Regions from separate parts of the Homo sapiens genome. Here region 1 is linked to region 2. A link means that fine-mapping ties the variant in region 2 to the expression of a gene that starts in the linked region. Tissue or cell type: sun-exposed skin. Region 2 holds a variant in brackets; the other region holds the start of a gene. All regions are shown on one strand. Distances are between the middles of the regions.

Region 1 (2,500 bases), 300 kb after region 2:
CAGAGTATCTATGGCGAAAGGTGTGGTGGTGAATGGACCCAAAACGGAGCTTCTGAATTGCCCACGAATGCCCACGGATTCCCTGTTAACATTTTAGCGCCCACTCAAGGGTCGGCCGTCCAGGTCTGGGAGTCAGTAAGGCACAATAATGCCTGCTAGGGAGGGAGCCAGCCCTCATCTCAGCGGATTCCTGGGAACGTCAGAGCTCGGGAACATTCCTGAACACCCGAACCGCACCTGGCCCAGGCACTGGGGCGGGGCTTAGGCGGGTCCCAGCGAGGCGATGCGTCCCCTCGGCCCCGCTGCGTCCTTCGCCCGTTTTTCCCCACGTCAGTGCCACCGCCTCCTCTGTGCGGAACTCGCACCTGGCCTGCCTGCGTTCCCACGCCCCACCGAAGGGACGCCGCGTTTCTCTCCCTTCCAAGGGACCCTTTTCCTTCCCCTCCAACAGCCCCCCGGGAAAACTCATTCCAGATTGCCTCGATGCCCCAGGGCCACCTGCCATCACCCTGGTCAGGCGTTTGGCCCCGGGCCTGCCCTGGTCTCCATCCCCAGCCCGTCCTCCACCTCTTGTCGCCCCCTCCCGCTCAGCCCCCTTCTCCTCCTTCTCCACGTGCCCCTGCACTCCCACGCCCCTCCCCCAAGAAGCCCCTCTCCTCCGGTCTCGAGGAGTCTCGCGGCACTTCCCGGGGCGTCAGCCCAGCCGCTGCGGGTGGGTGGCAGCCGCGCGGAGAGGGGTGCCTCTGGCGCGGGCGGTGAGGAGGGCGCCCAAGCCCCTCAGCCGCAGGGACGCCCCCGGCGCCTGCCCCGACGCGGCCCCGGCCCCGGCCCCGCCCCTCTCCGGCCCCGCCCCCGCCCGGCGGCCGCGCGTCCCCGGCAGGCGGAGCTGCAGGAGCCTCGCGGCAGCGCTGAGGAGGAGGGGAGAGCGGGCGGCGCGGCCGCGGCTGCCGGGCGCTGGGCTGGGCGGCGCTGTTTTTTTTTTTTTTTTTTTTTTTTTTTTTTTTTTTTTTTTTTTTTTTTTCGCAATTTCCACTCGCGGGGAGCAGGAAACCCGGCGCAGCCGGGCGCATTGGGCCGCGATGCAACAGCAGCAGCAGGAGTCGCCCCGGGGCAGCAGCGGCAGCAGCAGCAGAGGCAGCAGCGGGCGGCGCTGAGCCGCCGCCGCCGCCACTGAGGAAGAAGCCGGCCCAGCCGCCGCCGCGTCCGGACCCTCGCGCCTGGATCCCAGCGCCCCGATCCCGGCGCCCCAACCCCCACGCCCGCCTCCGCCAACTTTCACGCTGCCTCGGCGGCCCGGCCCGGCTCGACGCCAATGGGTGAGTGGGGGCCGCCCGCGTCCGGGCGTCCACTTCAGCCTTGAGGGCGGCGCGCCAGTCCCAGAACCGCGGAGCCCGGGAGGGCGCCCCGGGGGCAGGGTCCGGACGGGGGACACCGCGGTGGGCGCCCTCGCCTGCCTCGCGCACCCCCATTCACTCCCACTTGCGCCCGTGTGCCCGCCGAGCCCGCGCGCGGCGCCGACGGGAACCCGCGGGGGCCTGAGCAGACGATCACGGGGGCTGGCCCCGGGCGGCTCGGGCTGAGGGATGCAGGGGGTGTGGTTGGTTTTTCGGGTGGGCGGGGAGAGTTTTGTCTTGGCCATTTTTGCACCCGAGCGCGCCCTCCTCTGCGCTGCGGACACGGGCACCCGGACCTGGTGGGCTCCGGCCCTGCGCGGGGCTGCTGGTGTCTTCCTGGTCCTGTCTCGGGGGAAGCTGGAACCTCGGGGTCTTGGAGGGGGCTGGGTTGCCTTTGCTGGGGGTTGACAGGGGTTGGGGGGTGGGGCGGGAAACGCCCCAGTTCCTGGTCTGGCTCGCAGTCCCGGGGTCCAGAGCACCTGACGCTCCTCTCCTTGCGCCCCCCTTCCTCCCGGCCCCGACCCTTTCGCTGCTGCCTTCCTCCAGCCTGGCGAGCTCTCTGCTCCGTGATGCTAAAAGGCCACTTCCCATACTGTCCTTTAAGTCTTCAGGGTCTGGGACCTGGAAATGGTGATCCGGTCTTTGATTTACTGAGTAAACATCAGTTCGAAGTAGCCAACTAACCTTTGAACCCCCTGGGTCCCATTTGATTTAGACCCCGGAGCATTGGAACCACCTTGCTGCCCAGAGAAGCTGCCACTTTATTGGCAAGGCACTTATGATTACTTGGGCTATTAAATGTTTGGTCTACCCAGGTAATGTTCTTGCTGACAGCCAGCTTCTGTTTTTCAGCCTCTGGCAGATTATTTTTGGATGTTCCTAGGCCAGGCATAGGAAGGCTGCAGATAATAATAAATCATAATAAAGTGAGACCTTTCTGTGTTCAGGTAATAGGATTCCAGTACACTAGTCAGGATGTTCAGAAAGCCTGAAGGATTGGAAAAGAGGAGGTTTAACCCAGTCCGTTGTTGACAGGCAAAGTTAAAATCCCATTTGTGGTCATTTGCCAAAAAAGGTTTTCCTTTTCTAAGTAGTGGTGATCTGTT
Region 2 (2,736 bases):
AAAATCTCAGTTAATCAAAAAATACTGTTTTTGTGTGCATTCTTTGATTTTTTTTTTTTAAAGATGGAGTTTTGCTCTTGTTGCCCAGGCTGGAGTGCAGTGGCGCAATCTCAGCTCACTGCAATCTCCACCTCCCAGATTCAAGCAATTCTCCTGCCTTAGCCTCCCGAGTAGCTGGGATTACGGGCGCCTGCCAACACACCCAGCTAATTTTTGTATTTTTAGTAGAAACAGGGTTTCACCATGTTGGCCAGGCTGGTCTCGAACTCCTGACCTCAGGTGATCCACCTGCCTCAGCCTCCCAAAGTATTGGGATTACAGGCGTGAGCCACCACAGCCATCCCATTCTTTGATTTTTTAATGAGGTTGAAATCTGCATTCATTGGCAATTTGTATTTTTGTGTGAATTTTCTGCTCATGGCCTTTGTTCATTTTTCTTTCAGAATGTTATTTTTGGTCTGGCATGGTGGCTCACACATGTAACCCGAGCACTTTGGGAGGCTGAATTGCATGAGCCCAGGAGTTGTAGACCAGTGTGGGCAACATGGCAAAACCCCATCTCTACAAAAAATTAGCTGGGCATGGTGGCACATGCCTGTAGTCCCGACTACTCAGGAGGCTGAGGCAGGAGGATTGCTTGAGCTTGGGGCATCGAGGCTGCAGTGAGCCAAGATCGCTCTGTTGCATCTCCAGCCTGGGCAACAGAGTGAGACCCTGTCTCAAAAAAAAAAAAAAAAAAAAAAAAAGAAAATTTACATTTTTTTCCAGTCTTTCAATTTTAACTTTATGTTGTTTAATTTATGCACGTTTTTTTCTTCAGGCAGATCTACCAATCTTCTTTTGTGATTTATTCTGACTCTCATTCTTAGGCTTTCCCCAGTTCTATGATCAGATATTTTCCTTCTAATTTTATAGTTTCTTTTTTTTTTTCTTTTAGCTCCATTGTTTAGAAATTTTTTGGCAGGAGGGATGGTATAAAGCTAATCCTTTCTTTCCCCCAAATACCATTTATTGAAAATTTTCTTCTCCATGTAATTTCAAATTTTAAGTGTGAACTGAGCAAATTTCCCACAGGTTTGATAGTAACAGTCATCAAGAATCGGATATTATTTAAATTGTACACACTTCCGTTTTAATTTGTTGATGTTTATCTACCACTGAGTAAGAAAGTTTTTTTTTTCCTTTTATAAGCATATAAGCACGAGCCTTGCTCTACCAGGAATATTTTTAAACAGCTTTATTGAGTTGTAATTCATATATTATACAAGTCATTGCCTGGGTGCAGTGGATCACACCTGTAATCCCAGCACTTCGGGAGACCAAGGCAGGCAGATCACTTGAGGTCAGGAGTTTGAGACCAGCCCGGCCAACATGGTGAAACCCCGTCTCTATTAAAAATACAAAACTTGGCCAGGTGTGGAGGGGCACACCTGTAATCCCAGCTACTGGGAGACTGAGGCAGGAGAATCGCTTGA[A/G]TCCGGGAGGTGGAGGTTGCAGTGAGCTGAGATCGCGCCATTGCACTCCAGCCTGGGTGACAAGAGCGAAACTCAGTCTCAAAAAAAAAGAAGTGTATAATTCATTGATTTTTAGTATATTCACAGAGTTGTACAACCATCATATTAAGAATTTTGAATATTTCTCTCGGATATGAACAGACACTTCTCAAAAGAAGACATTTATGTGGCAAACAAACATATGAAAGAAAAGCTCATCATCCCTGGTCATTAGAGAAATGCAAATCAAAACCACAATGAGATACCATCTCACGCCAGTTAGAATGGCGATCATTAAAAAGTCAGGAAACAACAGATGCTGGAGAGGATGTGGAGAAATAGTACCGCTTTTACACTGTTGGTGGGAGTGTTAATTAGTTCAACCATTGTGGAAGACAGTGTGGCGATTCCTCAAGGATCTAGAACCAGAAATACCGTTTGACCCAGCAATCCCATTACCATGTATATACCCAAACGATTATAAATCATTCTACTATAAAGACACATGCACACGTATGTTTATTGCAGCACTATTCACAATAGCAAAGACTTGGAACCAACCCAAATGCCCATCAATGATAGACTGGATAAAGAAAATGTGGCACATATACACCATGGAATACTGTGCAGCTATAAAAAATGCTGAGTTCATGTCCTTTGCAGGGACATGGATGAAGCTGGAAACCATCATTCTCAGCGAACTAACACAGGAACAGAAAATCAAACACTGCATGTTCTCACTCATAAGTGGGAGTTGAACAATGAGAACACATGGACACAGGGAGGGGAACACCACACACCGGGGCCTGTCAGGAGTTAGGGGGCTAGGGGAGGGATAGCATTAGGAGAAATGCCTAATGTAAATGACGGGTTAATGGGCGCAGCAAACCACCATGGCATGTGTATACCTATGTAACAAACCTGCACGTTCTGCACATGTATCCTAGAACCTAAAGCATAATAAAAAAAAAAAAAAGTTAGTACAAAATTTAAATTCTGTATTAACACAGGAAGAGAGGAAATGCTCATCTGGAACTCTTCTAAGTGATCATTTAGAAATTGTTATGCTTTTATATTTTATGTTTTTTTTATTGTTTTTGGATAAGTTTCATATGGTTTTGTTTTTATTCCCCAAATAACTGCTGAGTTTTCCTGATTATTTTCCCAACTTATAACTATTGTGACACAAAATATAATTATTGGTGAGAATGAATATTCAAGCATATAGTCCTTAGAAAAATTA

Which allele goes with the higher level. Positions count from the first base shown, and alleles are read on the strand shown. Sizes are in standard deviations (SD) of each study's normalised expression.
In carriers of allele G in region 2, the expression in sun-exposed skin of the gene that starts at base 1,023 in region 1 tends to be higher than with A alone (moderate effect, 0.71 SD a copy in GTEx).

Evidence for each region. PIP is the estimated chance that this variant, and not a neighbour inherited with it, causes the effect.
Region 1: SH3KBP1 starts here. The variant in region 2 is fine-mapped to the expression of SH3KBP1 in sun-exposed skin (GTEx, PIP above 0.99).

The regions. Positions count from the first base shown.
Region 1 is chrX:19,886,123-19,888,622 of GRCh38, reverse strand. SH3KBP1 (SH3 domain containing kinase binding protein 1) reads left to right here and starts at 1,023. Exons shown (of 18, transcript NM_031892.3): 1 at 1,023-1,316. The coding sequence starts at 1,313. RefSeq lists silencers at 572-871, 932-1,001, 1,482-1,621.
Region 2 is chrX:20,190,603-20,193,338 of GRCh38, reverse strand. All of the region lies in intron 7 of RPS6KA3 (ribosomal protein S6 kinase A3), which reads left to right. Among named protein-coding and RNA genes, the nearest start is that of EIF1AX, 50 kb to the right of the region's middle. The variant A/G (reference allele first, on the strand shown) is at 1,476.